Homo sapiens: one gene and its partner. The protein of the gene in region 2 interacts with the protein of the main gene of each other region in a pairwise test. Each region holds a gene or a part of one and is shown on either strand. Other genes may lie near its edges.

Evidence for each region.
Region 1: the proteins of CALU (region 2) and CTNNAL1 interact in a two-hybrid assay, tested with the Homo sapiens proteins (one large-scale study listed by BioGRID and IntAct).

What each region holds. Positions count from the first base shown.
Region 1 is NC_000009.12:108,974,657-108,979,722, reverse strand, and holds part of CTNNAL1 (alpha-catulin), read left to right. Parts: intron 1-241; coding exon 242-442; intron 443-2,674; coding exon 2,675-2,761; intron 2,762-5,066. UniProt on the Homo sapiens protein: May modulate the Rho pathway signaling by providing a scaffold for the Lbc Rho guanine nucleotide exchange factor (ARHGEF1).
Region 2 is NC_000007.14:128,736,813-128,742,655, forward strand, and holds the start of CALU (calumenin isoform a precursor), read left to right. Parts: upstream 1-2,546; 5' UTR 2,547-2,620; intron 2,621-5,843. UniProt on the Homo sapiens protein: Involved in regulation of vitamin K-dependent carboxylation of multiple N-terminal glutamate residues. Seems to inhibit gamma-carboxylase GGCX. Binds 7 calcium ions with a low affinity.

The DNA.
Region 1 (5,066 bases), on a different chromosome or scaffold from region 2:
TAGCAATGTCATTGTATTAATTACTCTAGGAATGGTGCTTTGCATGGATATTGAAGGCTTTTGAGCAATGTATCCTTCTGGGTTAGTGGCGAATATAGATATCATTGGTGGCTGTATTTCCCCTCAGCTTGGGAAAAGGAAATGCTAGTGTTTTCCTGGGCACTGTTAGAAATTACAGCCCATTTTGGTCAGGTGGGAATATTGACTCACATGGATGGATAGATGTCCTTTTTGTTCTCAGATGAATATTGAAGCTCTTCGGGAGAATCTTTATTTTCAGTCCAAAGAGAACCTTTCTGTGACATTGGAAGTCATCTTGGAGCGTATGGAGGACTTTACTGATTCTGCCTACACCAGCCATGAGCACAGAGAACGCATCTTGGAACTGTCAACTCAGGCGAGAATGGAACTGCAGCAGTTAATTTCTGTGTGGATTCAAGCTGTAAGAACTTTTTTTAAAATCAAAGTAAATCTTATATAATGGCTTTCCCATAAAGTTTTGCAAGATATGGAAGTTACATAATCACCAGGAGTATGAATTTGTTCCAGAATGGGACAGGATATCTCATCCCTTCTTTCCCTCCTAGTTGGCCAAAATATCCTTCCCATCTAGCACTTACAATACTTGACATTTATTTCCAGGCCTGTTGACTCTCATTCTAGCCAGTCTCAATTATATGCCTCTGTCACTATCACTAGTTCACACTGTTGTCCCTACTCTTCCACCAAACTCACCTCTGGAAAATTCCTCCCCAAAATACTTCTTCAGAGTGAAGAACAGAGGAGTAGACCCCCTCCTAGAGGTTCTTGGGACCTGAGCCTGACTGCTGGAGCCATTCACATGTACACAATTCTTACCTCTGAGGACAGCTGATTTACAGAGACAATGATTTAGAAAACTTATTGGGGTGTAGATTCAATGAAAACAAGGGTAGATCCAGCTGGCAAGTAAAAGCTTTTCACCCTTGCACAAATTCCTGGTCTAAAATTGGTGGGTGGCCACTCTGTGAGCCTTAAATGGGCTGTTGGTGTGCTTCAAACAGAGGAGCTTATTTGGGCAAGAATGGCCAAGACTGACAGAAGTGGGACAGACAGGAAGTGTGTGTACACAATCTCTTATAGCAGGTGGATTGCAAAGTGGAGAGACAGAGAGCCCTGGGACATGTCTCTAGCATTATTTATTTCTTAGGCCCAGGCTCTGTCAGAAAAGTATTTAACATGGCTTACAATATACAGCAGTGATAGTACAAATCTGGAAGTCATGAACAAAGCTTTGGCAGTAAAGATGATGAAGGAGGGTGGATATGGCTGAGACTGAAGAAAGAAGGAGCAGTTGATTTCCTTGTAAGTAGATTAATTTATGAATGAAAGTAGATATGAATCACAGATTTCTCTGATGTTTTCTTGGCATCACAGTAGTGCACATGTTCTTATTAACAGGGAATCTTGCCCTAGAGTATAGTCGTGTGAGAGACTTGAGCAATGTTTTGTGTTTAGTTTGAATTATCTGTGTGATACACAATCTGAAGTGTAGATTGCTTCAGTGTTCAGTTTTAAGTCCAACACTCACTATAAAGAGTTGCTTGTGATGAAATACTCTGTTGGGAATGTGATTCTATCAATACTCAAATTTGCAATTAGCAAATGTCACAAATTTAGCAAATTTACCCGTGCATATTTCACAAGCACTCAGATCTCTGATCCTGCATTCTAGGTGTATTTTTCATTCATTCATTTTTTTCAGCAGTTGTTACTGGTGCCTTTTATATGCCAAGCACCATAAATCTAAAGATGAATAAGCTAAAATCTTTGTCTGCAAGAATTTTACAATATAGAAATTTGCGGGAAGGGGTGAGACAAGTACAAATAGCTTTGTAAGTATCCTAAGAGAAAGTGTAGACTATGCATTGAGAGGGTTTGAAGGAGGACAAATTTATATTTAGGGAGGGGGCTCAAGAAGTCTTCATGAAGTAGTGATATTTAATTTTTATTTATCATGCAAAGAATTGAATATCTACGACCTACCATTTGCTATGCCAGGTACTGTGGATTTAGTGGTGTGCAAAATAGATGTGAACCCAGCTTTCGTGGCCTAGTGGGGAAGATAGACTTTAAACAAACAAAAAATAAAAAATTCCAGATGGTTTGGACTGAAAAAATAAATATGTAATTGCAAACTGGGACGATTATGGAGCAAAAAGATTACAGTGAGTAAGAAGAGGGTCTGATTTAGATTGAGTGATCTGAGAAAGCCTTTCTGAGAAAAAGACATTTATGTAAGATCTTAAAGATGAGTAGGATTTTAATTTTTAACTAGGTTAGGAGTGAAAGCATGGACATTCTAGGCAGAAAATAAAAGAGATTAATTTTAGACTTGAGTTTATTAAAGAAAATTAGATTTTAAAAGTTCACCTTTCAATATAATCCATAGGTTCACAGAAAAATAAATAAATAAAAAAACAGAAGTTCATCTATTTGTAGTTAGCATTGAAAAATATAACTAAACTGAAATTTTATTTTCCACTGTAACTTAAACAGGTAAATTTTGAAAATCTACTTTTATAGTTCACAGAATAGTATTAAAATTTATTACAATTTACAGTCCAAACAAAATTGTAATTAACAGATTAAAGAGATGCGGTAACATTACATGTATACTTTTTAAAATTTTTAGCAAAGCAAGAAAACAAAAAGCATCGCTGAAGAACTGGAACTCAGTATTTTGAAAATCAGTCACAGTCTTAATGAACTTAAGAAAGAAGTAAGTATAGTTTGAAATTTAGCCTCTTCTAATTCTTTGTGATTTTCATGTTGTATGGGTGTATGAAATACATTAGTATTATTAGTATGTCTCTGTGCCTAGAAAATGGTTTTAAAAGTTTTCCTTTGAGGCCAGGCATGGTGGCTCATGCCCGTAATTCCAGCACTGTGGGGAGGCCAAGGTGGGAGGATCACTTGAGCCTAGGAGTTTGAGATTAGCCTGGGCAACATGGCAAAACCCCATCTCTACAAAAAACACAAAAGATTAGCCAGGTGTGGTGGTTAGCACCTGTAGTCCCAGCTACTCGGGAGGCTGAAGTGGGAGAATCACCTGATCCCCAGGGCTCAAGGCTGCAGTGAGCCATGATCGCGCTACTGCACTTCAGCCTGGGTGCCAGAGTGAGACTGTGTCTCAAAAAAAGAAAAAAAAAAAAGTTTTCCTTTGACATAGTTATTTTGAAGCCATGATTTTATTAATGCCATCATTCTCAAAGCTTGCACATGAATTTTCATCACTTTATTCATAATAATAAAAAACTAATAACCTAGAATTCCATCAACAGAGGAATTGATAAATGAATTTTGGAATAATTCTACCAAATACTATTCAGTAATAAAAGAGAACAGTATTGATACATGCAACAATATGGATGAATCACTAAGACATACTAAGCAAAAGAAGCCAGGCACAAATGATTATATGTATAAAATTCCATTTAGAAAAAAACAATTCTAGAAAAGGCAAAACTAATTTATAATGACATAAATCAGATCAGTGGCTATCTTGGGTCAGAGGTTGGGGTATATTTACTGCAAAAGGGCATGGGAGGACTTTTTGGCATGATGGAAATGTTCAAAATTAGTTGTTGTGATTACATGGCTGTATATGTTCATCAAAACTCACTGAACAGTATCTTTAAAATGGGTACATTTTGTTTTATATCAATTCTATCTCACTGAAATAAATTTTAAAAGATATTCCTTTGGTTGAGAGGGTTTCCCTGTTCCCTGAATAAAAAATTGGTCATCTCATGACTTAGTTGGCCACTCTCAGGTTATTGAAAGTCCTATGGTCACTTTAAGTCAGGTGTTCACAAACTACAACTGGACCGTTTTCGTCAGTAGAGTGTATGGGGACACAATGCTGCCCATCTGTGGACCTACTGTCTACTGTTTTCTCACTACAACAGCAGAGTTGGATAGTCACAATAGGGCCTAAAATATTTACTCTCTGGCCCTTCACAGAAAAAGTTTACCAATTCCTGCTTTAAGTCACAAAACATAATCTCAGTTGAAAATTAGAATGTTAATCATTATTTAAATCTTCATTTAGTTGTAGAGCTTCTCCCCTGTTCCCTGTTTTCCCAGCTCCAACTAGATAGAGCTGGGAAGATGTGGTCTCTTCTCCCTTTTTCACTTTCCTCACCCTCCGTTACGTAGCTGTTGTTGATTTTTGTCAGGTTGTGGCATAGAGAGAGAAGAGAGAAAGTTGAGAGGCAGAAGGTTTTTAGTGACCAGCACCCTTATCAAATGGCTTTGGGCTTGGTAGACATTTACAGTGGACTCTCACTCTCATGGATACCTTAGTGGTTCTTCAGAGGCTTTCCTGTTGCCCCCCCTACCCCCACCCCTGCCCCTCAACCCCTTTATCCTGTTGCTCCCTGCGCTTTGAGGCATGCCTGGAGGAGGGAGTCACAGTGGGCACCCAGCAGCTCTCCAGACAGACCCTCCTCACACAGACCTCTCATTTCCCTTAGCTGTGCTTTCTTAATTCTTTTATTTTTATTTATTTATTTTTTTGAGATAGAGTCTCACTCTGTTGCCCAAGCTGGAGTGCAGTGGCGTGATCTTGGCTCACTGCCACCTCTACCTCAGGGGTTCAAGCGATTCTCATGCCTCAGCCTCCCGAGTAGCTGGGATTACAGATGCACGCCACCACGCCCAGCTAATTTTTGTATTTTTAGTAGAGATGGGGTTTCACCATGTTGGCCAGGCTGGTCTCAAACTCCTGACCTCAAACGATCCACCTGCCCTGGCCTCCCAAAGTGAGCCACTGCACCCAGGCTTAATTCCTTTATATTCTTGAAGACGGTCAAGGGCTCAAGACAATGAAATTAGAATTTTAAAAAAATTTTCTTATTTTTGAGATGGGGTCTCACTTTCTTGCCCAGACAATGGTGTGAACATGGCTCACTGCAGCCTTGACCTTCTGGTCTCAAGTGATCCTCCTGCCTCATCCTCCCATGTAGCTGGGCCACAGGTGCATGCCACCATGTCTGGCTAATTTTTTGTAGAGATAGGGTCTC
Region 2 (5,843 bases):
GCCATCACATAGACTTCCTATGTCTTGAACTCAATTGACTTCCCTCATTCCATGCACCTAGCTCATTCTCCTAGTCTCCCATGATTAAACCTTTTAACTTTTGAGTGCTCCTTCTTCATTTCTTTCATTCGAGTGGTCACTAAGCTCAGGACTTATTTCCACTTTTAAAATCTCTCTTGTGGCTGGGCACCGTGGCTCATGCCTGTAATCCCAGCACTTTGGGAGGCCGAGGCAGGCGGATCACTAGAGGTCAGGAGTTCGACATTGGCCTGACCAACATGGTGAAACCTTGTCTCTACTAAAAATACAAAAATTAGCCAGGCGTGGTGGCACATGCCTGTAATCCCAGTTACTTGGGAGGCTGAGGCAGGAGAATCACTTGAACCTAGGAGGCGGAGGTGCAGTGAGCCAAGGTCGCACCATTGCACTACAGCCTGGGCGACAAAAGCAAAACTCCATCTCAAAAAAAAAGAAAAACAAAACAAAACAAACAAACAAAAAAACTCTTGTATATAAAGGTTCATTTCCATTTCCCTTTCCCTTGCTAGGCCAGGCCCTTCTCCATTAGGGAACCTCAGGGTTGGAGGGCCCTATCTCTGGCACCCTCACTACCTGTTTAGCCTTTACTAGGACAATTCCAGGATGGATGGCGCACCATTAAGCTGAGTTCCTTGAGGACAGGGACGATGTCCTGTTTACTTTGGGTTCACCAGCACATAACACAGTGCCTGACCTTAAGGAGTTGTTATTTTTATTTTTTAAGAGAAAGGGTCTTGCTCTGTTGCCCAGGCTGGAGTGAAGTGGTACAGTCATAGTTCATTGCAGCCTCAACCTCCTGGGCTCAAGCAACTAGCTTGAACTACATGTGTGTGCCACCACACCCAGCTAATTTTTAGTTTTTGTTTTTTTGTAGAGATAGGGGGAGGAAGGGTCTCGTTATTTTGCCCAGGCTGGTCTCAAACTCCTGGCCTCAAGTGATCCTTAAGGAGGTATTTTAAAAACTGTTTTCGAAATAATGCCTCCTGAGGTAGCCTGTTTTATTGTTAATACCCATTAGATGGCTTCCCTGTAGGCACAAGCTTAGAAACTTTCCCAGGAAGACCCACAGTTCCCACTGTCTTCAGTTCAGGTTCCTCAAATTGACAAGATCTTCCATTACCTCTCCAAACTTACTATCCATGCTTTTCTTTCATTGTTTCCCCCCACCCCTTTTTTTAACCTTCCTCATTTGCTACCTGGCCTGAGAATTTACCTCCCACTCTGCCCTCCACTTGTCCTTATTCCTATTACTCTTCTTGCTGAATAGTCCATTTGGGACTTCCTTAGTCCAGCCTTAGTCATATCTTCCTCTGAAGCCTTCCCTGACTACCACCAAGGGTCACTGACACTCCTTTGAATGCCAGAAGGATTAGTTGTAAACCTTTCACGTTGACAGTAACTAGCTTGCTTTCATGAGCTTAACTGTTTCATGAGTTTACAACTTGTCTCAATTTGATTTTAAACTACAGAGGCTTTATGTGCTAAGAATGCCACAGGTTTACATTCCATTTGTGTTGAAGCTATAGTAGCCTTTATTTGATATTTGTTTTAATTTCATGACATGAAATTAAATTTTCAGGGACATGCAACGGGTTCGGCCCATTCCCTTCACTTAACATTACTGAGCTGGGCAGTAAGCTCAGAGTTGCAGATATAAAGATGAATAGACAGATACCTACCCAGGAGCTTACTCTAGAAGAGGACAGATGGATAAGCTACATTTTATAGCAGAATTTGGCAAAGTGTACTGAAGCTATAAACAGCTATGATGGTAAATAAGGTAAGAATTATGCTTAGTGAGGTCAGGGAAGGCTTCTAGAGCTAACATCTGAACTGGGACTTCTATTGGCAAGGCAGAAAATCAGGAAAACGCACTTATTCCTGGCAGAGGAAGCCTCTTGATCAAAAATCTTAAGAGATGAAAAAGGACCGGTTGTTAGGAAACAGATGATGGTGCCCAGAGCGCAAGATGAGGGGGAGTGTTGGGAGATGGAGCTAAAAGATACACTGGTGCCAAAGACTGAAGAGCCTCCTGTAGATAGCGCAGGGCGCAGCGCTGAAGGGAAAGAAAAAGTTGGGATTGTTCAATAAAGTTGGTGACTGATTCAGTCGGATTAATTCCGCCCTGGTGGTCTTGTGGGAATGAAGATAACTAGCAGGATAGTCTAAGAAGCCCTGTGGAAGCAGAGTCATGAGCTGTGAATGGGGACGTGGCGGCCACACGGCCGCGCCCACGCCACCCGCAGTACGGGGCTGGGGCTGGGGCTGGGGCTGGAGCCCGCCGTCCCAACAATCCCGGGGACGAGAGTTGGGCGGGAATCCGCTCCACGCAACTCGGCGCGGTCCCGGGGACGTGGCGCTTTCCAGCCAATCCCGGCTATGCGATTGTTAGACCAATGGCTACTCGGGGACGCTATGCGACAGCGGCGGGTTTGCTGATGATTGGTCGGGAGGCCGCCGGCGAGGCGGATGAGGGCGGGGTGCGGACCCGCTTCCGGTTGGGCGGTGCTTGCGCGCGTGAGCTGAGCCGGTGGGTGAGCGGCGGCCACGGCATCCTGTGCTGTGGGGGCTACGAGGAAAGGTAAGTACGGTGATGCCCAGCCCCTTCACCACTGCCTCATCTTTATTCGCTTTCTTTCTGTCCCCGGTCTTGTTCTTGGCGCGGCAGGGGACTGCCTCACTCGGTGCCGCTGTCTCTGCTGGCGCCCGGGTCCCAGGCCTGATGCTGCTGGAGATCCCGGGACCCTCTGTGTGCAGCCTGGGATGGAGGCCGCCGCCCGTCTTACCGCGCGCTCTGGGAAGGGGGCTGGTCCGGTGGAACTCTGTCCCGTTGGGTACTGTTCTGTGCCTGGTTTGCTGCGTCCTGGTCCTCCATCTCTAGGTCACGCCACTCACCGAGTCTCTGGCACCAGAGGGTCATTTTTTGCCTCCGGAAGGTCGGAGGGCATTTGGATAGTGTTATTGTAAGAGTTCCTTGCCGCCTCCACTCACCATCCTGCTTGTATCTGCCAGCTCCGCCCCAAGGCCACATCCCGACAGTAGGGTGCATCTGCCAAGGTCGTGTTCACTCACCTAAAGGGTGCAGAAACAAGGGGGGAGAGAACGAGTGACGACACTAGGTGATATCTATGATTTTAAAGAAAAGCTGAATGTTTAGAGCTTCCATATTTGGCTACGTACTTCAGTTAGCGACGGAAAATAGTTTTTAAAGCTTTATTGGGGAATTAATTTTTGTTACGTTTTTTGTTGCTTCTAGCCCCATATCCTACTGATTTTTAGCATGCTGCGGTCAGAAATAAACTTAATTCCCTATAGCTGCCGCGATTAAGCGTAGAGTGGCTTGCAGTTTCAAAAGCTGCTTTTGCATCAAGGCCCAAGCTCCGTGGGTCTCCTGCTAAAACTTTTGAGCCTGTGATCTGAATTCCTAAGTGTATAAAATTCTAGAATAGTGTCTTCGAGAATTGAGTTGCGTTCATTTTCTGGTGTGGACCATGAAGTCAACGTTAATGAATTGGGAATAAGGTGGCTTCTAGTTGTTTTTTGTTCTAGTAGCTTATTCAGCTTGGAGGCAGAGAACCTTGGAATCTCTGTTAAATTAGTCTGCCATAGAATGGAACTTGACACAAGACAAATGCAAGTTTGACCTCACTCAGTAGATTTAATTAACCAAATACCAAACGACAGTAATCACTGAAGAATTTATATAGTATAATCCAAATGAGGGACCAGATATAACCTCTAAGTTGTATTTGTCAAGAAAATGAGTTTGCCAAGACCTAATCTGAGGTTTTACTGTGATTGGGGGGTGGGGGGGTTCCAATAGGATTCTTTTGAGAATCACAAGTAGGAAAGCCATGAGCTCACAAAAATGTATTGAGTATGCCTGAGTGAATAGTACTCAATATAGCTTTGAAACCAACTCATTGTCACTCTCAATGTAATCATTGTTTGTTTTCATTCATCCAGTGATGTGTCAAGAAGTACTTATTGATAGCACTTAATATCCATTAGAGCAGTATTGGGATCTATATATTGGTGTTATTTTTTAAAATTTATTTATTTTAGAGTTGAGGGTCTCAGTATGTTGACCAGGTGGAGCCTTGAACTCCCATGCTCAAGCAGTCCTCCTGCCTCAGCCTCCCAAGTAGCTGAGACTAGAGGTATATAACACCACACCCTAGTACATTGGTGTTAACACAGATTTTCTGTAACGTAGGTATACCAGGGATATTGAAAGGACAGAGGTGTAGCCAAGGATAGCCACTGGAAATGCTAGCTAGGCCACAAGGCCCTAGATTCTCACTCTCTGAACTCTTAAGTATGGATGTTGCTGATGCAGTAATTTATGTATTAGAGTTAAGACAGCTGAAATAACACTTTTGCCTGTTCCTGGCTGATTGCCAGATCCAGTAAACGGAATTGGAAGTTGGAGAACACAGGCAGGCAGGAACCACATTGCTGCCAAGTACCGCCCAATTAATTCAGTAAGATGTATTAATCCAGTAAAATGTATTGGTATCAAAAAAGTGCAAGACAATGTATTAGGGACAATATAGGGGTAATAATTTGTATTAGAATGATATGTAGACATTCTTCCAGAAATGTCGATTCTAAAGGGGAGCTAAGGAGACAACTTAAGGTAACCTATGGTCATTGTTTTTGAGTGGTTCAGACGAGTTTTATAGAAGTTTAGATTGGATCATACCCTTTTTGTCCAAAAAGAGAAAAAGATAACAGATCACTTCCAGCTAGAGTGATCATAGTAGGTAGGTCTTCTAGGATCTTAAATTTATTTATAGACATCTGGCACTGAAGGAAGTTTGAGCTAAAATAACTACCAAATTCTCAACAGTGTCACGCATGTTACACATGCACAGCAAAATTACAACTAGAAACCAAGGCTCCTATCCCTACATTTCAAATAGCATTTCTCTCACAATTGATTATGTATTAAGGCTTGTCAACGAAAAGGAAACTTTTTTCTCTCAGAATTTCTAGAACTTTTTTCTTTAAAAAGTTTTTTATTCTGTAGCCAGAAAAATTTAAAGTTTGTGCTGGGTTGCTTTGGTTATAGAACTAATGAAGCTTGAGTAATAGTTTCAGACATTCTCAGGGTTTTTCTTCTGCAGCCAGATTTTACACTTCTATTATCTCAGCTGTCTTATAAATGTATTCCCTCCATCACACAATATAATTAGAATGTATTGATGAACAGATGTAACTTCATCACTAGAGAGACGTTAAATAAATTATGTGTTGGTATCATGACTTTTATCAAATCATGAAGGATGCCATCACTTTTATGTGATAGTCCATTGGTATAGTACTAAAGTTTGTAAGTAAAGAATGTCAGATAGATAACAAGATAACTTCATTTTCGAGATCTCATAACCTGGGCCTTAGTATAGTTAAATTGCTATCAGTCTGTTCCCTGTAATCTCCAATTGAAGTAGACAGTTAAACAATGAGATCCTGCTTTTGCTGCGTTATGGAGAAATAAATGCCTTTTCTGGTGAATATCCATCCAGCTCAGAGAACTGGAATTTTACTACCACACCCATTTCTCCCAATTGTTAACATTGAGCAATGGGTCTTTGGTCAACCATAATAACTGTTGGATCACTCAGTGTTAACGTTCTTGTGAAGTTGAATTTAAACATCTAAATTTCCCTGAAACAATTTAAGTATTCTGTGACCAATGGCACTTTACCAAAATTGAAAGTTTGGGCCATGTATTGCTCGCAATACTGGTCCAATGGATACACTATGGACACTAAGGACAAAAACTTCCTTGAAAGCTCTAA